Linked DNA regions of Homo sapiens: region 2 is linked to region 1. Evidence: fine-mapped expression QTL. A gene starts in region 1. The other region holds a variant in brackets. All regions are shown on one strand. Distances are from middle to middle.

Region 1 (17,429 bases):
GGCTGTGATAGAGTGCTGGGAGCTTATTGTCACCTGGCAACTTTCTTTCTCTGTAGGTTGGTGGTGCTCTAGGGGCGACTCACTCATGAGCATTGTGATCTCCTTCCAGATATTTGTGGATAACTTTGTCCATGCAGACCTTCACCCTGGAAACATCCTGGTTCAGGGTGCCAACGGCCTGTCCTCGAGTCAGGAGGCGCAGCTGCAGCAGGCGGACATCTGTGACACTCTGGTGGTGGCCGTGCCATCTTCCCTCTGCCCGCTGCGACTGGTGCTGCTGGATGCTGGCATTGTGGCGGAGCTGCAGGCCCCTGACCTGAGGAATTTCCGGGCAGTTTTCATGGCTGTGGTGATGGGGCAGGTGAGACGCACTGGGACCACAGAAGTTGGGGTGAATTTTTTTTAATTAAAAGAGCTGGTGAAGCATGGTGGCTCAGACCTGTAATCCCAGCACTTTGGAAGCCTGAGCGGGGAGGATTGCTTGAGCCCAGGAGTTCAAGGCCAGCCTGAGCAACATAGTGAGACCCTGTCTCTATAAAAAATAAGAAAATAGGCCAGGCACAGTGGTTCACGCCTGTAATCTCAGCACTTTGGGAGGCCAAGGCGGGTGGATCACCTGAGGTCAGGGGTTCGAGACCAGCCTGGCCAACACGGTGAAATCCTGTCTCTACTAAAAATATAAAATTAGCCAGGCATGGTGGTGTGTACCTGTAATCCCAGTTACTTGGGAGGCTGAGGCAGGAGAATTCATTGAACCTGGGGGGCATAGGTCGCAGTGAGCTGAGATTGTGCCACTTCACTCCAGCCTGGGTGAAAGAGTGAGACTCCATTTCAAAAAAAAAAAAGAAAAAGCCAGGCTTGGTGGTGTGCGCCTGTGGTCCCAGCTACTTGGGAGGCTGAGGTGGGAGAATCACTTGAGCTCAGGAGTTTGGGGCTGTGGTGAGCTAGGATTGCACTGCTCTACTGCAGCCTGGGTGACAGAGTGAGATCTTAGTTTTTTTTTTTTTTTTTTAAAGTTTCAAAAAATTAATGGAGATGGGTTTTGCTATATTGCGCAGGCTGCCTTGGCCTCAAGCCATCCTCCCATCTCAGCCTCCTGAGTAGCTAGGACTACAGGCTGGGCAGGGGGTGAATCTTTTATACTCTGGGGAATGCCTCTGTCTCTGTCTTTTTTTTTTTTTTGAGACAGAGTCTCGCTCTGTCACCCAGGCTGGAGTGCCTTGGCGTGATCTCAGCTCACTGCAACATTCACCTCCTGGATTCAAGCAATTCTCCTGCCACGCCTCCTGAGTAGCAGGGATTACAGGCACATGCCACCATGCCCGGCCACTTTTTGTATTTTTAGTAGAGATGGGGTTTCACCATGTTGGCCAGGCTGATCTTGAACTTCTGACCTCAGGTGATCCACCTGCCTCAGCCTCCCAAGGTGCTGGGATTACAGGTGTGAGCCACTGCACCCAGCCAGAATGTCTCTGTCTTGAAACAGGACAGGTCTCCTTAGCCCGGTCATTCTTGTCAATGCTCACACTTGCCAGTGTGCCAGAAACGAGTGGAGGGAGGCAGGAGGACAGGAGGCGAGGCTGCCCTTAAGGGGCTTTCTGTTAGCAGGTGCTGGGTGCAAATCAGGCCAGTTCTGAGTGGCAGATGGTTTGGGACTGTGGGAAGAAACAAGTGCTGTTTCGTGTTAGTAGTTTCTGGTCCTTCTCCAGCAAACATCCAGCTGGTCAGCAGGAATGCTGGCTTCTTGACCAGATAATGGCTGCCCCTGGTGTGTGCTACCTGCTGCAAGGTGGCAGGCTGGTGAGATGCGACAGCATAGAGAACACAGCCTCTAAGTGGGGCACAGCATGCTGGCACGTCCGATGTGGGGACATGAGTAGTTTTTGCAGCCTCCCCTGTGATTCTGAGGGTCTGCAGTGGTTGAGAATGATTATTTAGAGAAAAGGCATTCGGCAAGGCCTCTGCAGAGTCAATTGAAAGCACTACGTCGTGGGTGACTCTGAGGAGGCCCTCTGGCCGGCTGGCAAAGAATTCTCCAGCAAGAAAAACACTGGGAAAAAGAGAACTGTTTTTTTTAAAAATTAATTAATTAATTTTTTTTTTTTGAGATGGAATCTCACTCTGTTCCCTGGGCTGGAGTGCAGTGGTACGATCTCAGCTCACTGCAACCTCTACCTCCCGGGTTCAAGTGATTCTCCTGCCTCAGCCTCCCAGGTAGCTGGGATTACAGGTACCCACCACCATGCCCGGCTAATTTTTGTATTTTTAGTAGAGATGGGGTTTCATCATGTTGGTCAGGCTGGTCTTGAACTCCTGATCTCAGGTGATCCACCTGCCTCGGCCTCCTAAAATGCTGGGATTACATGTGTGAGCCACTGCATCTGGCTCTTTTTAAAAAAAAATTTTTTTTTTTTAAACAGCAAAATGCAGGGCAGTCCCTGCCTCTGAGAGGGCAAACCCAAAGCTGGGGCCTGCAGCTGGTTTGAAAGTGTCCCCTGGGCCAAGGTTAAGCACTGAGGCGCAGTGCAGCGGGGGTGGGGGCATTCCTCCCTATAGGTATGGGCAAAGGGAAAAGGTCACAGCCCGAGGAGGAAGAGCCAAAAGCAAGATGCCAGAAAAGTCAGGGTGGAGCTGCTGAGATGAGAAAGACGCTTGGGCACCGCATCCAGGTTTATGCTAGCTCCACTCCAAGTCCCTTTTCCGTTGCATTTTCCAGGGCCAGAGAGTGGCTGAGCTGATCCTGCATCATGCCCGGGCCAGCGAGTGCAGGGACGTGGAGGGGTTCAAAACCGAGATGGCCATGCTGGTGACCCAGGCCAGGAAGAACACCATCACCCTGGAGAAGGTGGGCAGGTCACTTGCGGAACAGGGGCTGGGGAGTCCATACCTGGCCTGGGGCAGAGCAGATCCTGGGTCTAAGGGAGACCTCTTTATGAGGGGTGTGAGTTTTAAAGCAGAAAAAGAACCACCCCACATCTTCCAGGCATGAGGAGCCCCAGTGAAGTCCGTTGTGCTCAAGGGGGCCTCCTTGTGCGGTGCCACTTAGGAGGCTGCAGCTCCTTCCTCATCCAGGGGTCGCTGTTCATTTGGGGACAGCCAAGCATACAGGGAGGGAGGACTGTGGTCTCCAAGCAGCCAAATGATGTGCCCAATGCGCATGTCCCTTATTTAAACCCAAGCCAGAGCCTGCTTTGTATTTTATACACAGTTCTAGCAAATGTGACTGTTTTATCCCCAAGTTCATGGCCACATTAGCAGGAATGGGTCAGACAAGGAGTGGCCACTGGCACGCTGGCCCTGCTGATAGTCTATCCAGGTGTGATTTTTTAAAAATTTTTTTGAGATGGAGTCTTGCTGTATCACCCAGGTTGGAGTGTAGTGATGCTGTCTCGGCTCACTGCAACTTCCACCTCCCGGATTCAAGCGATTCTCCTGCCTCAGCCTCCCGAGTAGCTGGGATTACAGGCACCCGCCACCACACCCGGCTAATTTTTATATTTCTAGTAGAAATGGGGTTTCACCATGTTGGCCAGGCTGGTCTCGAACTCCTGACCTCAAGTGATCCGCCCGCCTTGGCCTCCCAAAGTGCTAGGATTATAGGCAGGTGTGATTTTTGTGGTTGCTTCAGGGATGGGGTGGGTGGGGCTCAAAGGCTTGTCTTCCAAAGGCCTCTGTGACCGAGTCTTGAGGTGGAGTTGGGCTTGTGCTGGAGGAGTCCTTTCAGAGTTTGTCAGATGGTCCCTTTTGTGCTGACTGGTGTATGTGTGCCCTGGCGGGGGAGTGGGGTGGGATGCTGGGGCTGAGAGTGTGGGGGTGGTGGGAAATGAGCGGTTCTGGAAGGCTCGGTGGTCTGCATTAGCCTTTATTTTGTTTTTCCAGCTTCATGTGTCCAGCCTTCTCTCTAGTGTCTTTAAGTTGCTGATGACTCACAAGGTGAGGGCCATTCAGAGGGGAGGTCTCTGGGGAAGGTGGGACGGGGCAGGGAGGAATGGGAGGACACAGGGTGGTGGGAGGCGCTTCTATTATATGGTTCTTGTTTTTTGTTGTTGTTTTTCTTTTTTTTGAGACAGAGTCTCACTCTGTCGCCCAGGGTGGAGTGCAGTGGCGCGATCTCGGCTGACTGCAGCCTCTGCTTCCTGGCTTCCAGTGATTCTCTTGCCTCAGTCTCCTGAGTAGCTGGGATTACAGGCTCCCACCACCACGCCTGGCTAATTTTTGTATTTTTAGTAGAGACGGGATTTCACCATGTTGGCCAGGCTGATCTCGAACTCCTGACCTCAGGTGATCCACCCTTCTCGGCCTCCCAAAGTGCTGGGATTACAGGCGTGAGCCACTGTGCCCGGCCTATTATATATTTTGAAAGCATTTTTAGTAACAAGCCATTTGCAACAAGTGCTTCGTAGCTGTTAGTCTATCTGTCAAGTCAGTGCAGTCTAAGTATCTGTGACATTTAAATGTAGAAAAGTGTATTTAAAAATGTAGAAACAGCCTACCTCTGGCTTTTCATGTCTTTCCCTCCTTGGTTCACTTTCATGATGCTTGTGTTAATGTAAGTCATGCTTAGCTCTTTCCTGGTGGAATGAAGTCCTGGGGTCCAGAGGCCGCTCTAGAGGGTCATGCCTTGTGTCCTGGTGCTTTCAGAGGCCCTAGCGGGACTGCTGTGGCCCCTGCCTGGCTGCTGTAGTCCATTAGAGGGAGCTGGCCTCATGGTTCATCTTAGCCTGTGCCCCGGCTCTGTCGCCTTGTCATGGAGCCTAGTCTCCGGCACTCTTTAAACTAAGGCTGCTGGCCAGGGACAAGCAGTGTTGAAGGTGGAGAAGGGAGGACCTCGTTGGAAGATGGCCTTTTCCATTGCATTACTTAACTATATGACATCTATTAGTAACCAATTTATCCCCTCAGTCTTCCAAGAGGCAGGCACCAAAGCCGAGAGGCCGAGCAGCTCACCTGTGGCCATGTGGGCAAGCCCCCGCCTGCTGCTGGGTCCTCCCGCCTCCGTGGCTCACTCTGAGCATCTGCTCCCCACACAGTTTCCAGCACGGTGGGTGAGGGGCCTTGAGTGTTTGCTGCTGCTGCTGCTGTTCCCAGGATGGAAGAGGAGACAGAGGGCCTAGGGCAGCTACTGCACTCCAAGCACTTCACTAGGCACTTAAGTTTGAAAACATTTACAAATTTTTCATTGTGATGAAAAACACATAAAATTTAACCCCCCAACCCTCTCCAGATGCATAGTGTTAGCATTGTGCAACAGATCTCTAGGTCTTTCTCATTTGGCAGAGCTGAAACTCTACAGCCATTGACCAGCTCCCCATTCCCCTCTCCATCCGGCCCTGGGAACCACCATGCTGTTTTACGTTTCCATGATTTTGGCTACTCTTGATATTTCATATAAGTGGAATTATAAAGTATACTGTCCTTTTGTGATTGGCTTGTTTTACTCAATATAATGTCCCCAGGTTTCATCCATGTTGTAACATGTGACAGGATTTCCTTTTGAGACAGGGTCTCACTGTGTCACCGAGGCTGGAGTGCAGTGGTGCAAGCTTGGCTCATTGCAACCTCTGCTTCCTGGGTTCAAGCAATTCTCGTGCCTCAGCCTCCCAAGTAACTGGGATTACAGGCAAGTGCCACCATGCCCAGCTAATTTTTGTATTTTTAGTAAGAGATAGGGTTTCGTCATGTTGGCCAGGCTGGTCTCGAACTCCTGACCTCAAGTGATCCACCTGCCTTGGCCTCCCGAAGTGCTGCGATGACAGGCGTGAGCCACCGCGCTTGGCCTGTTATTCTGTTGATGCTGTTGATGTTCACGTGGGTTGCTTCCACTTCTTGGTTATAGTGAATAATGCTGCAGTGAACATGAATGTGTAAATATCTTTTCAAGATCCTACTTTCAAATTTTAGAAAAGTTTTAAAAACATTTAATGTAGCCAGTAAGGTCTATACATTGTGTTCTTGCTTTCCAGTTTTTAAACATATGCCCCAAAGTAGGTTTTCTGGATCATATGGTATGTTTTTAGTTTTTGAGGAACTTCCATAGGAGCTGTACCATTTTATATGCCCACCAACAGTACACAAGGGGTCGTTTCTCTCATCCTCACCAACACTTGTCATTTTCTGTTTTGTTTTTAGTGGCCATCCTAATGGGTGTGAGGTGATGTCTCATTGTGGTTTTGATTGCATTTCTCTACTGATTCATGATGTTGAACATCTTTTCATATGCCAATTGGCCATTTGTATAATATATCTTCCTTAGAAGAAATATCTATTCAGGTAGCACTTAATTTTTTTAAATAAAGTATTTGACAGTAACACAGAGATAAAGGAATCTAATCCACACTAAGAACCCCCCACCCAGCTTCAGAATGAAAGCATTCCCAGAGGTGTTAGAGCCCTGGGTTCCCACCCGGACCAGAGCCTGTGTGGCCAATCTGCCAGGCTGGAACTCCACAAGCTGCTCCTGGGAGCATGCTGCTGCTTCTGGATCCACCTGACCCCGACAACCTTCCAGCCCTTAACGGAGACAAATACTCTTTAATTTCTAACAAAGAATATTTCCCATGATTCAACCTTCCATTTCTTGACCTTCTGTCCACTTAAAAAGCAGATTCCTGTTCTTCTAGGTTTACATCTGGCTCTATTCCTCCTCACTCAGTGGCCTTGAGCAAGTCATTGAACCTCTCTGAGCCACAGCTTCTTTCTCTATAGAATGGGGATAACGATGATACTTTTGAAGAATAGTTGAAGAATCCATGTCAATTGCTATTACTACTAATCTGGCTCTGAAGGGACAGCTGTACCCTGTTTGAGCAGTCAATTGTGTGTTGTCTCTGATTTTTTTTATTTTTTTGAGATGGAGTTTCACTCTGTTGCCCAGGCTGGAGTGCAGTGGAGCCATCCTGGCTCACTGCAAGCTCTGCCTCCCGAGTTCAGGCCATTCTCCTGCCTCAGCCTCCCGAGTAGCTGAGACCACAGGCGCCTGCCACCATGCCCGGCTGATTTTTTGTATTTTTAGTAGAGGCAGGGTTTCACTGTGTCAGCCAGGATGGTCTCGATCTCCTGACCTCATGATCCGCCCGCCTCGGTCTCCCAAAGGGCTGGGATTACAGGAGTGAGCCACCACGCCCGGCCTGTGTGTTGTCTCTTAAAAAGGCTATTGTAGACCAGCTGACATGGCTCCTGCCTATAATCCCAGCACTTGGGGCAGCCAAGGTGGGAGGATTGCTTGGGGCCAGGAGTTCGAGATCAGCCTCGTCAACATTGCAAGACCCTCTGTTTACAAAAAAGAGTCCCAGTCTCAGGAGGCTGAGGCAGAAGGATCCCTGAAGTCCAGGAGCTCAAGGCTGCAGTGAGCTATGATCTTGCCATTGCACTCCAGCCTAGGTGACAGAGTGAGACCCTGTCTCTAAAATAAATAAATAAATACATACATACATAAAGGTTACTGTAGGTTTCGAAGAATTACCTGTATTTAAATGTATAGTTTCTGGGATGTGTGTGAAAGATTTATTTGGTCATTCATTCATACACACATGGACACAAACCTAGAAAAGTATATTCCGCACCCCTAGATTTTTCCTTAGTGTGTCCAGTAGATGGGAGGCTGGGCGAGTAGGTGAGATGGTTGGGGAGATGACGCGGTAGAGAAGAGAATGTCAGGTAGATGGTAAACATCCCGTGGGCAGGTCTGAGGGAGGCTGAGAGTGGACAGCAAGGTGATTATCCAGAACACACGTCCCTGTATCAGCATGTTCTGAGATGAACTGTTCTGTTTTTCTGTTCCAGGTAAAGCTTGAGAGCAACTTTGCCTCCATTGTGTTTGCCATCATGGTGTTGGAGGGGCTTGGCCGCTCACTGGACCCCAAACTGGACATCCTGGAGGCAGCGAGGCCCTTCCTCCTCACGGGCCCAGTGTGCCCCCCGTGATGGGGCAGTGGCCTCTGTGGGCCCTTGTCAAGAGCTGGAGGCCACTCCCAAGAGCCTCTCCTATGGCAGCTGGGACGTTTTAAAATTGGGACACCAATTTCAAATGTAACCCTCCAGTGGTGGAAGGCACACCATGGCTTCCTCTGCTTGGTTTGAGGGTCTGTTCAAAAGCTTTGGGCCAATTAGGGAGTAAAAGGAGGGAAGGGGCCTATCCATTCCATTGTGGAAGCTGGGCCAGGTGCCAGGGACACTCTCCTTCAGGGAAAATGTTATGTGGAGGAGGACGAATAAATTTATTTTGTTTTCCTGTTTTTCTCATTTCTTGACCCGCTATACTCCCTGGTCAGATGGGTACTGCTGGTAGTTCCCAGACTTTGATATTCAGGTTAGAAAATGCCATCAAGTCCTACTGATCTGTGGCATGTGCACACACACACACACACACACACACTCTTTATGTATAAATATCATGCAGGTGCTACCTGCCAGCATAATATACACTTAGGGCAAATTTCATTGTACTTCAAATTATCTTCTTGGTAATTTTTAATAGATTTTGCTAACTCCTTGGTAACTTTTATTACAAGGTAAAACAAAACTGATGAAAGTGGCTGACATACCGGGGACGTGAGCAGAACGGCTTGGCCACTTCCTTAACATGGCCCCGGGTTCACCCGCTAGTCCGGAACTACAGTTTCTCTGCCACAGTGTCTGCGCCTGTCCACTTGCAGGCATTAATTTTGGTGAATATGAAGAGAGTTAATATAACCAGTGTGTCCTCTTCTCCATGGCAGCGCCCAGGGACAGACCTGCAGTGACCACCACCTGCCCCTCTCTGCCAGGCCCAACCACGGGCTTTCTTCTCAGAGCTGAGCTGATGTGGCCGTCTGGCTGACTAGGAGGGGCCCGGGGTCAGCCTGGAGGGGGGGTATTTGTAAAGCTTAATTTCTCTTTTTTTTTTTTTTTAGGTAAAATCACAGTTTATCCCTGCACCTTCATAGATTATGTTGCTCGTCTTAGAGACCACCAGGCAGCGAATGGAGTCAAGCCCTTGCGCTCTCCGAGAGTCCTGCCCTGACTACAGGACTAGTTTCTCCCATTCTTTCCTTCTCCAGGATAAAGTTCCTCATTCCTGTCTTTTAGTGAGCAGTATGGTTTAGGTGGACAGAGATTCCTTTGGTGCAGTTTTTTTCAAGGAGGTGATGTTATTTTTTCCTTCCCAGGTCTTGAGGGGACATTCAAAGCAGGCAGAGAGGGGTTGGGATGGCTCCAGATGGCTGGGAGGGAGAACACCAGCTGGTCACGCAGCCCCTCGTGCCAGTGCGCATCAGGTACAGTGTGGAGGCGGGAAAGGGACAAAAAGACGGCAGTCTCTTCCCTGAGCCTATGCCAACCCAGCCTTAAAGCCAGTGGATCGAATCAAGCCATTTGTGGCATTATCTATTGCTGCGTACGAACTTAGCCTGGCACAATGCCTGTAATCCCAGCTACTCGGGAAGTTGAGGCAGGAGAATCGCTTGAGCCTGGGAGGCAGAGGTTGCAGTGAGCCGAGATGGTGTCACTGCACTCCAGCCTGGGTGACAGAGCAAGGCCTTGTCTCAAAAAGAAAAAAAAAAAAAAAAAAGAATTATACACCACTCAGTTTTAGGAGGGGCAGAACACGGGGAGAGCCCTACAGGATCAGAGGGGCAACCAACAAGCTGTTTCAGAAGGCATGGGGCAGCTCAGCAACCATAAGTTATGCGTGGGCTTTGCTCTCGGGAGAGAGGTTTCCTGCAGCCGAAGGACTCACAGCTAATCTGGGTCAGGAGCGGCTGCCGGCTCCCCCACTCCTGGAGATGAGCGACTCTGTGACGTCACGGGAGGCGCGGGCGGAGCGCCGGGGAAGCGAAGTAGGCAGGGGCGAGGCGGCTGGGGACCGCGGGGCGGACGGGAGCGAGTATGTCCGCTCTGACTCGGCTGGCGTCTTTCGCTCGCGTTGGAGGCCGCCTTTTCAGAAGCGGCTGCGCACGGACTGCTGGAGATGGTGGAGTCCGTCAGTGAGTGTGGGGCTGGGGATGGGGGCCTCGCCGGCCTGTAGCGGACAGCGCGGGTCCCTGGGACGCTCTCACCTTGACTGGGGCGCCTGAAGAGGCCGCGTCCCGAGGCATGCTGGGACCTGTAGTCCGCGTGTCTCCTGAAGCCGCGACTCGAGGAGAGGGACCCCGCTGGCCGGAGGGAGAGGGAGAGACTTCGCTGGGCAGATGGGACACCGTGTGCAGGGCCGTCATGGTAGTAGGGGCCGCCTGCCCTCGGGAGACGCACGCGTGAATGCGGAGCGGGCTGAGCCAGTCGGCGCCGGCGCGGGCGGTCCAGGCGGAGGAAGCAGCGTGCGCGGCGGGTGTGGACGCTCCTGGAGCGAGGCGGGGGGCGGCGGCGGTGAGGCCTAGGGAGGGCGCGGTCCAGGGTCCCGGTGCCTGGCTGCGGAATTTAGGGTAGAGTCTGTTCGGCAGCCTTTAATCGGAGACGTCACGTGGCCGCTTTTTAATGCTGAAAAATCACTCTGGCTGCAGGGAGTGGAGGCTGTCGCCCAGAGAGAGCGCCGTCGGGTGAGAGGAGCAGAAAGCCGGAAGCCAACGCTGGGGCAGCCGTGGCGTTTAGGAGAGTGACAGGCAGAGCCGCCCGCGAGGTGGCCCGAGACGCAGACCGGAGGGCGGAGGGCTGGGGGTGCGAGGTAGGGAGCGGGTGCGAGGTAGGGAGCAGCTGCCGAAGCCGAGTTAGTGGTGTGCAGAGATTCCGTAAGAGCAGGACTGGAAAAGAGTCATGGATGATTCCAGGTCCCTTAGATCATCAGCTACACTTTACCAAGAGGCAGTGTGGGGTCGTGATTCCAAGCGGGATTCTGGCCGCACAGTGGCTGGGTTCAAATCCCACCTCTGCCACACTCCAGCTGTGGGACCTTGGAAAAGTTTCTTATTCTCTTAATGCCTCAGTTTCCTCACCCATTTGGCGTCCATTTGCAAGGAACTAAATGAGTTACTGTTATCTAAAGCGTGTTTGTGTGTTTTAGGAGATGGGGTCTAACTCTGTCAGGCAGGCTGGAGTGCAGTGGCGCGATCCTAGCTCACTGCAGCCTCTAACTCCTGGGCTCAAGTGATTCTCCAGCCTCGGCCTCCCAAAGTGTTGGGAATACAGGCGAGCCACTGCGCTTGGTCTCACTAAAGTGTTTAAAACAATTGCTGGTGCCTGCTAAGGACCGTACAAGTATTCTTTAACTGTTGTTGTTATTAAGGAACTGAGGCCCAGGAAATGAAAGGAGTGACTTGCCTGAAGTCCCACATGGATGAAGAATCTGGAGCTGGGGCAGGTGTGGGGTGGGCAGAAGGCAAAGCCCTGTGTGACTTGGGCAAAGACAGTGATGGAGAGCCATGAGCGACAGCCCTTGGTCCTGCATGAGGAGATGGGGGAATGCCGATCTTCCCTGAGGTGCTGGCTTGTTCGTAACACACACTTGTTTCAGAGTGTGTGATAATTAAGTGCATAAATGTTTATGGAGCATCTTCTATATGGCTGCTCCTTTCTAGGTGCTGAGGATATAGCAGAATACGAGAGAGAATGAAGTGTACATTCTGGAGAGGAGAGACCAGTAGAAAAGAAAGACCTTTTTTGAGTACTGTTAAGGGTTATGAAGAGAATACAGCTGGGGATTAATATGGAGAATGCGTGGTGTGGGAGTAGAAGGGATATTGTATTTGGGGATGGCGTGGGAATGCCTGGGAGTGTGATTTGAAGCGGGACCTGAGGGATGAGAAGTCAGCCATGCAGAGACCTCAAGGGAAGAGCCCGGTGGACATAAGAGGGCAGAGGAGGCATCAGGTGGAGAGGCCAGAGCCCGCAGGGTTGGCAGGAGGCCAGGCTGGAGTGGAGCGTAGGGGAAGAGTGGGAGAGACCAGGTCACAGGGACAAGTGTGGGGGCCGGATTAGAGGGGGCTTTGGAGGACTCGGAATTTTATTCTAAGAATCACAGGGAGCCATTGGAGTTTTAAAGCAGGAAAGTAATGTGGTCTGATTTATTTTTTAAAAATGTAACTTTGTCCAGGCGCGGTGGCTCACACCTGTAATCCCAGCACTTTGAGAGGCTGAGGCGGGCGGATCACCTGAGGTCAGGAGTTCGAGACCAGCCTGGCCAACACGGTGAAACCCCATCTCTACTAAAAACACAAAAATTAGCTGGGCATGGTAGTGTGCGCCTGTAATCCCAGCTACTGGGGAGGCTGAGGCAGGAGAATTGCTTGAGCCCAGGAGGCAGAGGTTGCAGTGAGCCGAGATCGTGCCACTGCATTCCAGCCTGGGTGACAGAGTGAGACCCCGTCTCAAAAAAATAAAAATAAAAATGTAACTAATAGAGTTATGGTGCATTTTTGTTTTTAAACTTGACTCTCAAACATTTGAAGTTGGAACAGCCATTATTTCCTTGGATGTTGTTTCTTCCCCATTCTCTTTCCTTCTTACAGGACTTGCTGATAGTGTCTTACTTCCTTATGTTTTTTGATCTTGAGCTTGTTTTCCCTGGAATTTCTTTGAGATCGTGCTTCTCTTAGTCTCTTGAGGGTGCCACCCCAATTCAGGCTCACATTAAATTCTCGGCTTGGGGTTTTTGGTCCACACAGGTCCAACGCAGGTAATGTGAATTTGGGTGCAAATCTACCTGAGGACTGGCTTCTGATAACAAATTCTTGTTCCCTTGTCCATGGAAGGTTTATTTCTTGTTCACCCTTTTACCATATGGGGTTGCAGCTTTATTCAGTGACCTCGTCATTAGCCTTCCCACCTTGGGTGGGCCCCAGGCTGCGTCTCTTTCCCCACACCTCATGTAGCTATCCTGGTGGAGGTTCAAGGGCTCCCGGTGAAGGCAGCTTCAGTGATTGATTGCTTAGCTTCCAGGCCTTGTTTTTACTTGAATTTTGCTCTTGGTGGATTCCTTCCTTTTGTGCCTGGTCAGTGATGTTTGTAAAAATCTTAAAAATCTCATCTAGCAGCAGAGTTGTTAATTTGGAGGGTTGTTCAGGGTATCTAGTTTGCCACAATGCAGTTCACAACCTGGTTTGGAACATAACATTGTGAATTAGGTGTTGAGTCTTTGCATTCCTTAATCATGGCAATCCTTGTCATTGTTCCTGTGATATAATTGCAGACTTTCAAATCTTTGTTCCAAAAGGTTTCCATTTTGCAGTCCCTACTTCAGGTTATGATTAAAACAACATGTCACTCTAGCAATAACGAAGCGTGGGGAGCTGCTAAGATGGGTTTGAACTATAATGCTGGCATCGGCATTACTCAGATCTTTTTTGTTTTTTTGATACAGAATTTCGCTCTTGTTGCCCAGGCTGGAGTGCAATGGCACGATCTCAGCTCACCACATCCTCTGTCTCCCAGGTTCAAGTGATTCTCCTGCTTCAGCCTCCTGAGTAGCTGGGATTACATGCATGTACCACCATGCCCAGCTAATTTTGTATTTTTAGTAGAGACGAGGTTTTTCCACGTTGGTCAGGGTGGTCTCGAACTCCCGACCTCAGGTGATCCGCCTGCCTCGGCCTCCCAAAATGCTGGGATTACAGGCATAAGCCACCGTGTCCGGCCTTCAAATCTTGTTTTAATCAGTTTTACTGCTGGGCACTTATACCTAGATTGTATCAAAAAGCTATCAAAGAAGAAGGCTCTTGGCCGGGCACAGTGTGGCTCACGCCTATAATCCCAGCACTTTGGGAGGTCAGGGCAGGCGGATCACCTGAGGTCAGGAGTTCGAGACCAGCCTGGCCAACATAACGAATCCCTGTATCTACTAAAAATACAAAAATTAGCCGGGCATGGTGGCACATGCCTGTAATCCCAGCTACTCGGGAGGCTGAGGCAGGAGAATTGCTCGAACTGGGAGGCAGAGGTTGCAGTGAGCCAAGATTGTGTCACTGCACTCCAGCCTGGGTGACAGAGTGCGACTCCGTCTCAAAAAAAAAAAAAAGCTCTTGTTATACTATATTGAATGATCCTGCATGGTTTATTTACATAATGTAATATCTATATGCACAGCTAGATCCTGAATGAATAATATAATTGGTATATGAGGACATTACGGAAACAGTATGCTACGTCATTCAAGTTGTAAAGTGGCGATATTTGGTAGGACCTTTTAAACATGATACTTAAAAAAGTACATATATACACACATCTGCAAAAACTAAAAATCACCTTATTCATAATTAGTTATTAATACCTTAAATAGAGCATTCCAAATAAAAGTGTTAAATTTTGGATGACTATTTAGAAAAAAAAATGGAATTTATCATTTCAATATGGTAACATTGGTTTTATCATGCTGGTTGGAATTCTAGTTAAAAGTTATGTCTTTGATTAATAAAAGGAGAAAATTGTTAATGGTGTGTGTCTGTAGGCAACAGCTTAGGCTTTGCCATCACACAGCATCTCACTGGTAAATCATTAATAATTACAGGCCTTATCATAACATTATGAAAATTAAATGAATTAAAACTTATAAAATGCTTAGTGTGGTATCTGGCACATGGTAAACACTCAATAACTACCAGTCATCTTTTAGAGTGGGGGAGGATAAAAACAGTCTGCCAGCCTGGCAACATAGGGAAACCCTGTCTCTACAAAAAAAATATAAAAATTAGCCAGGTCTGGGGGTGTACACTTGTATGTAATCCCAGCTACTTGGGAGGGAGGCTGAGGCAGGAGGATTGCTTGAGCCCAGGAGGTGCTCAGTCAGCAGAAGGATCGCTTGAGCTAAGGTCACGCCACTGCACTCTAGCCTGGGCGACAGAGCCTATCTTTAAAAAAACAAACAAAACAGCCGGGCACGTGGCTCACGCCTGTAATCCCAGCACTTTGGGAGGCCAAGGTGGGTGGATCACCTAAGGTCAGGAGTTCGAGACCAGTCTGGCCAACACGGGGAAACCCCGTCTCTACTAAAAAAAAAACAAAAATTAGCTGGGCATGGTGGCGTACACCTGTAGTCCCAGCTACTTGGGAGGCTGAGGCAGGAGGATCGCTTGAACCCAGGAGGCGGAGGTTGCAGTGAGCCAAGATTGTTCCATTGCACTCCAGCCTGGGTGACAGAGTGAGACTCTCGCAAACAAACAAACAAAGAAAACAAACAGTCCTAGCTAACATGTATCAAGAACCACTGCCCTGTTACTGTTCACGAATCTGTGCATTATGAAGACAAGATATTTTAATGCACTTTTCCTACAGGTACGAATTTCTGTGCTACATAAAAGAGAATATGGTTTACAAGCTGATTCTTATCTAGATGAAATTGGTAAACATATTTTATATAGGAATTCTCTTAAAAATTTTTTATCCACTTCTGTTTATTAGCATATATATGGCTGATGAATAGGTTTTAGGAATAGCCCCAGTAGGTGCAAATAATTTAAATTAGATGCAACGTATAATATTTATACTCCAACTGAATAAATTGACTATAACTCTTATGGACTCTGTGCCACAACTTGTCAAGTGTCTGAATGAAAAGAAGAAAAAAGAAACACGTATTCAAACTTACTGTTTAAAGTTCTTTGTTCAGAGCCATTAGCATATTTAATAGGATTTGCGAGTCCTCTCTCCCATATGGTTGTCTTTTAATAAAGATTGTAATAGGCAGAGGACATAATTTGCCTCAAATAGATAGCTAAACAAAGCAAAATTAATTTATTTTTCTGAGTAAGTTAGTGACCTGCTAACAAGTTCACAGTCCCTTAACTAAAACCTTTGGGGCTAGCACCCCAGAATCAACACATTCAAATTTCTAGTGCAAAATAATGAATCTTCACTAATTGAAAACCAAAATTAGCCTCTTGTCAGTTTTGGTCAGTTTTTGCTGCTACACATGAAGCAAGCTTAGTAAAAAGTGAGTATTTCAAGGGATTGTGAACTTCTGTCTATATTTCAGTGGAGATGAGAAACATTAGCGTTGGTTCTAGGATGTAACTCAGAGGAGTTTTGGATGACTTAACGCTTTGAGAATGTAGCACGCTGTCTGCCATGTTGTTTTGTCTTGCAGTGCCGGTGGTGGTGTGCACATTGAGCCCCGGTATAGACAGTTCCCCCAGCTGACCAGATCCCAGGTGTTCCAGAGCGAGTTCTTCAGCGGACTCATGTGGTTCTGGATTCTCTGGCGCTTTTGGCATGACTCAGAAGAGGTGCTGGTAAGTGCAGGAGAAGAGCACTTGTCGTTTTTTGGGTGGGGGAGGGAGGATGTATTAATAGCTTGTTTATTTTTCTGTTGTAGACCATTTTTCTGTCTGGACATCGCCCTTTGCCACCACTTTTTCCATATGTATATACAAGAATCCTGTTATTTAATGAAACATGTTATCTTCTCACCTTTTTTTACACGAGGATGTATATTTAGGTGGTCCGTTTCTTATGGTTTCTGTTAGGTTGCCATCTTAGGGAGACTAAAAGCTCATTTTTTTTTTTTTTTTTTTTGAGACACAGTTTCACTCTGTCACCAGGCAGGAGTGCAGTGGCACAATCTCGGCTCGCTGCAACCTCTGCATCCCGGGTTCAAGTGACTCTGGTGCCTCAGTCCCTTGAGTAGCTGGGACTACAGGTGTGCACCCCCACGCCGGCTAATTTTTTTTGTTGTTAGTAGAGACGGGGTTTCACCATGTTGGTCAGGCTGCTCTCAAACTCCTGACCTCAAGTGATCCACCTGACTCAGCCTCCCAGAGTGCTGGGATCACAGGCGTGAGCCACCGCGCCTGGCCAGAAATGAATTCTTTTACCTTCTGAACTAGCGGTTCATTGGTAGGTTAGGTTTCACACTTAAATTCCTTTAAATGATGAATGTCTTCTGGTCTGTCCAGAGGCCCAGGGCAGCCAGGTTTGGGTGGGATGGATGTGAGTTAATTTGTCTTGAGAAGGGAAGTTAGTTTTAGTGATTTTCTATTTTATTTATTTATTTTTGAGATGGAGTCTCACTCTGTCACCCAGGCTGGAGTGCAGTGGTGCGATCTTGGCTCACTGCAAGCTCCGCCTCCTGGGTTCACGCCATTCTCTTGCCTCAGCCTCCCAAGTAGCTGGGACTGCAGGTGCCCGCCACCACTCCCGGCTAATTTTTTATATTTTTAGTAGAGACGGGGTTTCACCGTGTTAGCCAGGATGGTCTCGATCTCCTGACCTCATGATCCACCTGCCTTGGCCTCCCAAAGTGCTGGGATTACAGGCGTGAGCCACTGCGCCCGGCCAGTTTTAGTGATTTTCTAACATATCATTAGCCTCAACTGAGGTTTTACCACATTTGCAGACCGTTCTTTGGGAAATTACGTCTTTAAGACATTGAAATCTGTGCTTGTTTATCCAGGATACTTTGAGTTGTAGTAAATTTGGGTTTGTTTCCAGGATAGGAAAAAAATCTTAAGCAGTATGTAAGTTTTAGAAGCATCAGGTTGCTTCATATCCCATTTCTCTTAGAACTTCTCTGTGCCGTTGTCCTTCAGTAA
Region 2 (11,640 bases), 110 kb after region 1:
TGAGGCAAAACAAAACAAACCTAACTTGTGCAAAACCCAGAAGCTTCATATACCAAAATACATAGTTAACCAAAAAAACTGAGATCAAATTCCATTCTCAGAAACAACTGTTAAAATTCAATTAGTTGTATTTTTGTCTAAAGGCTTATTTTAAAAAAAATTGTATTGCACTTTCAAAGGCATGCTTATAACTTAAAACTAATCATTCAGTTCAGCAAATTTCTACATACTACAAGATGAAAATCATGCTTTATGGTTAAAGAATGAGAATAAAAAGTATCTACTGTAAATTAGGTGACATTATAATTTACTTAAAGTACAGAGTTAAGTTTTATTTGCTCAGGTGATCAAGAAAAGTAAGACTTTAACAGCAGCAGCACCAATGACACAAAAAGAGATAATAGACTCAGTCTAATCTATTAGAAAAACTGGCATACAGCAAAGAGAAATTTTAGAAAGAGATATATACTGGATACAAAAATTTTACATCTTACTCAAATAAATTGGGGGAAGGGAGCTGAATGGGGATGAAGGAGAGAGAGGAAGAATATAAACGTAATTTACAAAATAGCTAACAGAATCAGACTACCTGATCTGTGGTACAAAATCATAATGCTTAATTTAATTGAAACAACTCTCCCTCTCCTCCTAGAAACTATCCAAAAATGGTTTCTATGGGTTAGGGGTCTTGATTAATTAAACGATAATATAAAATATAAATTAACTGTATAGCTGAACCAGCATTACAATTTGGGAGAGAAATACTGTCCATTCCACATATTATTCTCTAACTACACTTAAAAAAAATTCTCTATAACAATCGTATGGAAGAAAAACCCTCACAGACTTTTAGACATCGTAGCTTCACATTAAGAAAATTTAAGTGTAAAATGGTAGGTAGAAAAGAGATATTTTTGGATTACTTACTCAAGTTGGTCATAATTAACACACATCAGTGGAACTTCTGTACTACAACGCTGGTGAAATTTATAACCACATGTTTGACAGCGGAAACCCTGGAAAAGCAGCTTTCGACAAAAGTCACAAAATGCTAAGGTGAAAAACGTTTTTCGTACCTGCAAAGTAAAAAATCACAGAGATTTCAAAAACTCACAAGAAAACTTTCTAGAAACTGACGTATCTACTCTCTTGTTTAAAATAACAAAGTTGTAATATATTTATATCATGAAACTCACATACTAAAGTACTATTATAAAATGAAAACCGGGGGTTCAAGATAATAGATGGACTACACATATTTATTTCCCACCCCACTATCTAACTTAAAAACCCAGAAGTTAAAAAATGAGAAATGAGTAAAAGGCTGGCAACTGATTTCAAGCTTGACAACATAAAAGTAAAAGTAGACATGAAAAGGAGGAGGAAACAGAGGTGAAAGGAAGAAGCCTATACTTTAATTATCATACAAAGAAGGGAGGTTAAGAAATGCCGACTGGTGTTGACGGAACAAGAAAGGCATATATTAAAGTTACAAAGGCACCCAATAGAAGAACCAAAAAACTACTAATAAAAATATTGGGGGAGAGGAGGGAGAGGAAGAACTATAAATGAGCTAATTCCTTATACAATCAGTAATCAGTATATGATATCTAAAGTTAATAAAGCAAGAAATTGTGGCTAAAAGATAATTGCAGTCATGTGTCACATAATGACACTTCAGTTAATCATGGACTTCATACCACAGTGGTCCCATAAGATTATAAAGGAGTTGAATAATTCCTATTGCCTAGTGATACCTTGAAGATCCTGACCTTGTGTAGACCTAGGCTAATGTGTATGTTTGTGTCTTTTTTTTTTTTTTTTTTTTTTTGAGACAGAGTCTGGCTCTGTCGCCCAGGCTGGAGTGCTGTGGCACGATCTCGGCTCACTGCAACCTCCACCTCCTGGTTCAAGTGATTCTCCTGCTTCAGCCTCCCGAGCAGCTGGGACCACAGGCACATGCCACTAGGCCTGGCTAATTTTCCTATTTTTTATTAGAGGAAGGGTTTCACCATGTTGACCAGGCTGGTCTTGAACTCCTGACCTCAGGTGATGCGTCTGCCTAGGCCTCCTCAAGTGCTGGGATTACAAACATGAGCCACCGTGTGCAGCTTGTGTCTTCATTTTTAACAGAAAAGTTTAAAAAGTAAAAAAGAAAAATTAAAAATTTTTAAAATAGAAGTTTATAGAATAAGCACATAAAATATTTTTGTATAGCTATATAATGTTTTTAAACTTTTGAAACTGTTATTTCAAGAGTCAAAAAGTTAAAAAAAATTAAACCTTAGTTTAATGTAAATTTTTTACTTTATAAACTTTTTAAAAAGAAAAATTTTAAAACTGTACTGTAGCCTAAGTGTACAATGTTTATCATAAAAGTCTACAGTAACAAATAGTAATGTCCTACGCCTTCACATTCACTCACCACTCACTCACCAGAGCAATTTCCAGTCCTAAAAGCTCTGTTCATATTAGGTATCCTACACAGGTAGACCATTTTTGATCTTTTATACTGTATTTTTACTGTACCTTTTCTACGTTTAGATACACAAACTTGCCACTGTGTTAAGGTTACCTACAGCATTCAGTTCAGTAACATTCCGTGCAGGTTATTAGCTTAGAAGCAATAGGCTCTACCATATAGCCTAGTTGTATAGTTAGGCTATACCATGTAGGCTTGTGTAAGCACATAACAAAATCACCATTGATGCATTTCTCAGAACATATCCCAGTCATCAGGCAATGTGTAACTGTATTTAGTAAGATGAAAATAATCACCAAAAGAGCTTAAAACAGAAACCATTAAAAATTAACAGTGAATTCCTCCAGAGTGGAATTGGGGGTGGGAGGGAGAGAGACTATAAATACAATCTACATAATAGCTAAAACAAAAACAAAAACAAAATAGCTGACAGAATCAGAACCCCTGATCTATGGTCCAAAAACATAATGGTTAACTTTGGATAAAAATGTAAAAACAATTATTTATAAAACTAGTAAGTAATCATATGAAAATTGAAACAGCTCTTCCTAATCTTACTAAAAAAAATAAGAAACAGAAAAATCACCTAAAAGACAATAAGATCTATTTTTTCTAACAAATGATCAATTTCTTAGAGGATTAGAATGTTTGGGCCACATAAACTTATTTGTGAACACTTCTCTAGGTGAAACTTAGAAGGCAACATGTTAAGAATTCCATGTCAAAGGCAAATGATGTAGAACATGAGTCACGTAACAGAACTGCACTAGGAAGAATCTATCCCACTAAAGCCAGAAATTGCTTAAAATATATTTATTTAGTGTATATAATAATAAGAAAATATAAGAATAAATATCAAAATGTGAGTGGCTACTTCAGAGTGGCGAGAGCATGGGTGACTTCTATTTCATTATTTGTTCTTTGCTCTGTATTCTTGAGATGGAGTCTCGCTCTGTCGCCCAGGTTGGAGTACAGTGGCAGGATCTCGGCCCACTGCAACCTCTGCCTCCTGGTTTCAAGTGATTCTCCTGCCTCAGCCTCCCAAGTAGCTGGGGACTACAGGCATGCACCACCATGCCTAGCTAACGTTTGTATTTTTTGGTGGAGATGGAGTTTCACCATGTTGGCCAGGCTGGTCTCAAACTCCTGACCTCAAGTGATCCGCCTGCCTCGTCTTCCCAGAGTGTTACAGACATGAGCCACCACACTCGGCCTCTATATTCTTAATTCATTTCAGTTTTTCAGAGATTTTTTTTTTGAGACAGAGTCTCACTGTCACCCAGGCCGGAGTGCAGTGGCACGATCTCGGCTCACTACAACCTCCACCTCCTGGATTCAAGCGATTTTCCTGCCTCAGCCTCCCGAGCAGCTAGGACTATAGGCGCACACCATCACACCTGGCTAATTTTTGTATTTTTAGTAGAGACAGGTTTTTTTTTTGGGGGG[GGT/G]GGTTAATACTTTTAATTACATGATTGTAATTATACAATTTCCACTCTTCAATATTTTGTATAAAACCAGTTACAACTCACAAGATTTTCAAATGAGACAGGATTTTACCAGGCTGGCCAGGCTGGTCTTGAACTCCTGACCTCGTGAGCTGCCCACCTTAGCCTCCCAAAGTGCTGGGATTACAGGCGTGAGCCACTGTGCCCAGTTTTTCAGAGTTTTAATCACAAATAATGATATTTTACATTATGACTCCATATATAACTGTATTCATACAACACTACTTACCCTGACTATATACAACATGAATTAGAACTTCCTAATCTATTCTGCTACATGTAAATTTTTTTATGATACATTAAATAGATTTCAACATCAAAAGTCTACTTTTCTTTTTCTTTTCTTTTTTTTTTGATAGGGTCTTGCTCTGTTGCCCAGGCTGGAGTATGGTGGCACAATCATGACTCACTGCAAAGTCTGCCTCCCAGGCTCAAGTTATCCTCCCACCTCAGGCTGAATAGCCAAGGCTATTGGTGCACACCACCATGCCCACCTACTTTTTGTATTTTTTTGGAGAGATGAGGTTTTGTCATGTTACCCAGGCTGGTCTTGAACTCTTGGGCTCAAGTGATCTGCCTGCCTCGGCCTCTCAAGGGATTAGAGGCATGAGCCACTGTGCCCAGCCAAAAGTCCATTTTCAATACACATTTATTTACACATTCTGTTCCATTAAGAATAGAAAGTTATTGAAAATATTTCAAGAAAATTACATCCTGATATATAATACATTCTGGCTTTTTGAGGACATTTAGTTTTAAAAGTGACTCTTATTTTCTTCACCTTTTTTCCTATGTATCACTTTCTAGGGGATATAAAACAGGTAAATGTCTATTTCTAATTGTGTTCTTTTTCCATTTGTCTCTGGATATACAAGAAATTTTAAAATCTTTAAAATTTTTTATGTGGCCATTATTCACCAAACCAAGTAGGTAGGTGACCAAAACAGCTGAAGGAAAGAAAACATGTGGATATGCATTTGATCATAAATTTTAAGCAATATATGCCTGTATCTGTAAGTATACCTTTGTCAATAAAGATGAGCACAGGAAGATATATCTTTCTTTTGGGTCACAGCTTACACTTAATCTAGTATCTGAGTATACATAAATATGTATGGCAAATTAGTGAGAGGCACAGTCAAGGTAATTTGCATGCATTAATTTGTAAGGTGTGGGGCTGTGTGAAGGAAGACACTGAGTGTCTGCAGAAAAAGGAGAAGGTTTGGATATAAAAGTTTCAAATCTTGTTTTCCCACTTCCCAGTTCCCAAGGACTCTTGGGATATAGAGAAATACTGAAGGGATTGCTTTTATAATATGAAACCATGAGGCATAAGCAGCCCTCCTTGAATAGCCAAGCAAAACCCAAGACAGCCAAGAACACTTTTCCTTTCTAAGCAGAACATAGGTTTTTGATCTTGCCTCTATATGGCACTCAGAGCAATCATTCTAACACACAAATCTAATCACATTTCTCCCCAAGCTTACAACTATTACATTTCTAATTATTTTACAGAAAAATCCAAATCTTTAATATGGCTAACAAGGATTTTCATGAGCTGGACTCTGCTTATTCTACCCACAACTCTTATTCTACCCACAATACTGTTAACAACCTACTCTTCAACCTTGTATCATCCATTCTGAACTTCTTTCAAAACTTTGAAAGGTAACATGCTTTCTTGCTCTTCCCTCTGTTTAGGGTACTCTTTACTTGATACTTACTTCCTCATCCATCAGGCCTAAGCTTAGATATTTCTGTCTCTGAGAAACCTTCCTAACTCCTCAAAAGCCAGGTTAGGAATCTCTGTGCATCTATAGAACTTTATACATATATAGTAATTATGAATGTTTATGAAAATTTATTAAATCTTCTCTCTACTCTATGGCAGTGACACTGTCTTATTCATTTGTCATATCCCTAGGTAAGATATGGTATTGGCAAATGGAAAGTTCTCAATAAAAATTTACTGGCAGGTATCCAACTGAGTGGTGACAATTTCCATACTCTGGAATCAATCTGCAGTTTGCTTTCACAATCCTTCTGTGGCAAGGACCTTCCTGAGGCATCATTTTAATACTATTTTCTCACACTTAGCAACTTAGGTCTTTCTTTTATCTCCTCATATTCAATTTCTAGCTAAGAAGAATTATTAAGAAACAGAGTAGTAATCACTATGAAATGTATGCTCAACTGTATTTGTATTCTTAAGAACTTAAATAAAAATGTTAAGATTTATCCACTTAAAATTCAACATGTTAAAAAATTATTTGCTGCACAGTAAAATTTGATTGACATTAGGTGTATCTTACACTTCTCCCAAAAAATGCCTTACAGAAACACAAACATGATTTCATTATTCACTACTAATGGAGGCTTGAAAGCATAAACCCCAAAGGAAATAATCTAATCAATCATCTGCTTTAAGAGCCCAGCTGGATTAATCACCAAGACACATGGGAAAACACTTGACGCCTAAAGGGTAGCAGTAATTATCCACCTAGAAAAAACTCTGGCCAAAATTCCATACATAGAGAAAAGTAAGAAATGTATTCCTGATTCAGAGACAACTTTTGGCTTCTGCCTGCCATTTTAGGGGATAAGTTCTCAAGTTCTATGTAGATCCTCATCTCTAAGGTGGAAAGGTCCCACATTCCGGGCCTTATGCTGGTGACCCTTAGGCTTATGCTAGGTTCTAGCAAATGCAAAAACCAGACAAAGAAAAAAGCCTCATGGAGAGTTTAATATCCAGCCATTCTATTTCCATTAACCTATCCTTCAGAAACACAAGGGTGTGTACAAGTGTGTCAAGATATATGCAGAAAGACCTTGTTTAGCCCTGTATGTAACAGATTTTTTATAATACAAAAACTTAAATGTCTATCAATAGAGAAATGGTTAAATATAATGAATTCCTATTCTTACGAATTATTACATAGTCATACTAAAATAAAGCCAGGTATACTGACATGAAAAGATGTCCGTGACATCCTGTTGAATTAAAAAAAAATAAGGCAAAGAATATCACATAGCATGGCTCTACTTTGATTTAAGAAAGGGAAAAGAAAAGAAAGTAATGAAGGAAAGAGAGAAAAAAAGAAAGGAAAAAACTTTAGGCTTACAGGTACAAGCACACGTTTGTGTACACAGAAAAAAGTTTGGAAGACAGAACAATAATCTGTTAATCTAAACAAATGTTGGCCTCTAGGAGGGTATTTTCACTTTTTTTACTTGACATACTTCTGCACTATTCAAAATTATCTTTTAACAATGCATACATTTTACTTTTTTAAATTAAAAAGAAAGTATAAAGATTAAAATTAAACTCTTGTTTAAATACAAGTTTTTAAAGAAAACAACTGATTTCAACTCAGGTAAAATGTCAGTTCCAAAATTACTCATCCATATTTCACATTCCCTAAATAAAAATTCATTCATTAAAATCTAAACATTTTTGACATTTCAAAAAAAAATGTAAAGATACATACAAAGTTGTGTGTTGTAAGTGGAACATTCTCCAACACTTCCACATGCAATTCTTCTCCAGTAAGCCAGGAAATATCAGTGTCCCAACCAATTGGTTTCTTCTCTCTGAAAAATGTAGACACAAGCCTTTCTTGGTTATTACACCTAAAAATATTCATATACCTCATGCTGAAGATATGAAAATTGGTTATCGAGGGGCTAGTAACAGTGAGGGAGGTTTGGCTCCCTAATATTCCATCGTTAGAAATTTAAATGGCAATAAATTAATTTTAAGTTTACCCCAAATAAATGTATCACTCTTGGACAAACAGCAGGGTAAAGAGATGTACTCTTTTCTTCAAGTCAGCTCCAGAAAAGACCTACAACAGCAGAAAATGGATTGTTCCTGGGGTCCAAAAAAAAAAAAAAAAAAAAAAAAAATCACAGGTACGGACTTATCTATCCATTCAAGGAAAAAGAGTACTCAAGGGACAGGGACAACATGCCCCCAAAATAATTTTTTTTTTTTTAAAGAGGATTCAAAATGTGAGGGTCTTGGAACAATGTTAGACACTTTCTGAAAGAAAAGTAGGTCAATATAAAATGTTAATTTTGATATACCTTTTGTGAAACTATGAGTTTGTATTAAAAATGGGAGGGGGGTAAGAGTCTATTATCCAAATAAATCACACTCTGAATGGTTCAAAAATTGTAAGAATCTCAAATTCCAAATAAAATCATTTGATCAAAGTAACAAACCCTACAGTCATATACAATTATTTAACTCCTCATATGGCCTACAGTATTTCTTCAGGCTAACTTAGTATTATTTTAATACTTTTTCCTAAAGTACACTTTCAATTCCCTAGGTTTTGGTAAAGATCCTAAGAAAACTTCAAAGTTTAATGTGTGATTTTCTTTTTAAACAAAATTTCACGTCACATACAAACCATACCCATCCTGAATTCTGTAAACAGCACAGCACTCTGGGATTAGACCTCTCATCATCAGTGCTTTCTTTAGACTGTCTCGGACTGTAACTCCACACCTTGCAGGTACCTATGGTATCATAAATATATTGATAAGAGGTAAAGGGAGCAAATTACATTTTTTCATATCATTAAAAAAATTTAGTAATTCATCTTTAAAAAGTCAAATGGGTTACTAGGTCAGATACAACACCATTTCTACAGCTAACTTAATACTAAAGGGAAATTATAACCCAAATATTTGTTATTATTCACCAACTTAAATCAAAGCAAAGTTAATTTTCTATTTTATTAAAATTATGAAATACTTTAAACATATAAAAAGAAGAAGTAACAGTATCTGCTACAATATACCCACCAACGCAGTATATCCATCACTGAGCAATAATAGATGTCAATATTAAAAGCAAAATCAATTTTGATCCAATACTGTTCAAAGCTGAAAACTGTATAACCCTTCAATCACACTGACTGTCCTTAAGAGACCTCTTACTGGCCCTAAACATAGCGGGAAGAAAAAAACCTGTCTTAACATGTATACTTGATATTTGTTGTTTGGTGCCCCTGTTTCCTCTGGGAATATTCCCTTCTCTAGAAATCCACATGGTACTAGAAAAGCTATCAAGGGTCACTACTTTTATGTCACTACAGATGACAGAAGCTGGCTAATCAGTTTCCCATACCCCCGGCAAGAGCAACTGGTCCAGGGCTATATATATGACCCAAACAGTACCTGAGTTCTTCCCTAAATTGACACATGGACACTGACAGAGAAAAGTCCTTGTTTCTACTGTAGTTCTGTAGATTTGCAGAAGATACAAATCTGGAGCCCTCAATGGCCATATTCTCCACCACACTGAGAAAATCTGTTATAGAATGAAGCTAACATACGAAGCAGCAAAGATGACATGGGAAGAGAGAGACAGAGAAGGAGGGAAAGGGAAAGGGAAAAAAAAAGTAATCTCTCTGTATATTTAAAGTTATCTATCTTTAGCCTTTTCCTTGCCTCATCCCCCACAGGCAAATCTGAGTTACTTGGAACTGAAGGTGTAGACTACAGTGAGGCAGTGTGAATACAGAGGACACAGTTTTTATTGGGAGGTGTAAGAAGAAGGGGAAATGTTAGTTTGTAACAATAAGTTCCATTCATTTAAATTGAGGTGCTTAGCAAACCAAAAGTTTCCAAAGAAATTGGGAATATTTATGCTAGAGGGGAAAAAAAGGGGGTAAAGGTAAATATAAGACAGCTGAATTCAAATAATATATTGAAGGGGGAAAGAGTCCAGAAAGCCTAATTAGGATCTATGACCAGAAATAACAGGACGCAGAGGGTAGTGCAATATAACCATTAAAACTATCCAGGTTGGGTGCAGTGGCTAACACCTGTAATCCCAACACTTTGGGAGGCCAAGGTGGGTGGATCATTTGAGGTCAGGAGTTCGAGACCAGCTTAGCCAACATGGTGAAACCCCATCTCTACTAAAAAACACAAAAAGTAGCCGGGCAGAGCGGCGGGCGCCTATAATCCCAGCTACTCAGGTGGCTGAGGCACGATAATCACTTGAACCCAGAAGGCAGAGGTTGCGGCAAGCCAAAATCGTACCACTGCATTCCAGCCTGGGTGACAGAGCGAGATACTGTCACAAACAAACAAAGAAAAACCCTGAACTTTTACCTACCCAGCAAGGTAAAAGTTTGTCATGAGAGACTGGGCTCATCACTGGAAGTATTAAAGAGACTGGATGGTACAGTTGATCCTCATTACTTGTGGAGTCCATACTTGAAATCTCTCTACTTGCTAAAATTTATTTGTAACTCTAAAGTCAATACTCTTAGTGCTTTCATAGACATGCGCAGAGCAATGAGATATTTGAGTCGCCTAATGCATGCACCTCTCCAACTGAGGTTGAACAGTGAAGCTTTCTCTTGCCTTCTTGTTTCAATTTTCATACTATAAACAAGTATCCTGGGCAGAGCCTATTTGGTGCCACTTTTTTCTCACTTTTGTGCTTCTTGTTGATGATTCTTCTGTTTAAAATAATCCCTAAGCATAGTGCTCACGTGCTGTTTAGGGCTGGTAAGCATAAGAAGGCTATAATGTCCCTGGCAGAGTAAGTACATGTGTTAGGCCAGCTTCCTTCAGGCATGAGTTATAGTAATGTCAGCCGTGAGTTCAATGTTAATGAATCAACAATATGTCTTTAAACAGAAACACACACAAAACAAGGTTACGTATCGACTGACTGATGAAAATGTGACTAGAGGCTGGTAGGAACCTAACTGTATTTTAAATGTGAAGGATCTGGGGTCTGATCAAGGAAAAAGATATGACCACGAGGTGGCAGTAGCATGCATAGCTTTATTGGGTGACATTGACAGATCTGCAGGCAGAGGATGTCCTTAAAGCATACTGTCCAGAGGCTAAGGCAGAGTGGCCACTACCCAAACAGGACTGGCCAGAAGCTGAGGTGGAGTGGCTATCACCCAGAAGAGGAGGGCTAGGGGACTCTCAGGGGAGAGGGGAGTAGGAGAGGGAGCTTATATGTCTAGCTGACAATGTTAGACAACCCAGCAGGGAGTCTATGTATCAAAGAGCTCCAAAGGGCAACAGCAGCTTGGAATCTTTATAGCCTTGGGATTTGATCTTATTTATACCTAATAGATGTTGAGTACAAAGCAGTTTTGTGGGGACTGCAAAGTAGGCAGGCTCTCAGTGGCTAAAAATCTGCTTATCAGGATTATATTTAAAACAATTAGATGTACAAAAAATTTAGTTTGGTGCAAGCACACTTTTAAGCCAATAGGTCTCAACCTGTTGTAATGGAAGAAACAACCTAGAGGCCAATATACAGAGGGGTTTTTTGGCTCATTTAAATAATAATAATCCTTGTACTTCCCCTAGGAGCAAGGTTCAGTGTTCACTAATTGTTTGTAGTGAATTTATAGACCATAACTACTACGAACAATGAGAACTGGTTGTAACCTTTCAGAAATAATAAACTTAAGTGAAAGCTCACTTTTCCCTGTGCCATTCGTCTTCCGCCTATACTAATGCCAAAATTTCCTGACTGGTGACCGATCTTTAGTTTTAAACCACATCCAATGTATCCTATCCTATGTTACCATAGAAATCTTTCTAAAGAAGGCATTCTTTTTTTCTTTTTTATCTTTGTTTTTAATTTTTTACTTTTAAGAAGGT

Direction of the effects. Positions count from the first base shown, and alleles are read on the strand shown. Sizes are in standard deviations (SD) of each study's normalised expression.
In carriers of allele GGT in region 2, the expression in esophagus mucosa of the gene that starts at base 9,828 in region 1 tends to be higher than with G alone (moderate effect, 0.68 SD a copy in GTEx).

The links. PIP is the estimated chance that this variant, and not a neighbour inherited with it, causes the effect.
Region 2: its variant is the best candidate, but not a certain one, in a credible set for the expression of NDUFB2 in esophagus mucosa (GTEx, PIP 0.70).

Annotation. Positions count from the first base shown.
Region 1 is chr7:140,686,881-140,704,309 of GRCh38, forward strand. NDUFB2 (NADH:ubiquinone oxidoreductase subunit B2) reads left to right here and starts at 9,828. Exons shown (of 4, transcript NM_004546.3): 1 at 9,828-9,962; 2 at 15,986-16,130. The coding sequence starts at 9,865. It overlaps ADCK2 (aarF domain containing kinase 2), which reads left to right. Exons shown (of 8, transcript NM_052853.4): 5 at 110-361; 6 at 2,717-2,845; 7 at 3,880-3,933; 8 at 7,783-8,230. The coding sequence ends at 7,923. It overlaps NDUFB2-AS1 (NDUFB2 antisense RNA 1), which reads right to left and starts at 10,197. Exons shown (of 2, transcript NR_024454.1): 1 at 10,035-10,197; 2 at 8,456-9,940. RefSeq lists enhancers at 2,783-3,283, 9,837-10,146.
Region 2 is chr7:140,800,485-140,812,124 of GRCh38, forward strand. It overlaps BRAF (B-Raf proto-oncogene, serine/threonine kinase), which reads right to left. Exons shown (of 18, transcript NM_004333.6): 4 at 8,408-8,511; 5 at 7,476-7,578; 6 at 928-1,076. Among named protein-coding and RNA genes, the nearest start is that of NDUFB2-AS1, 110 kb to the left of the region's middle. The variant GGT/G (reference allele first, on the strand shown) is at 3,929.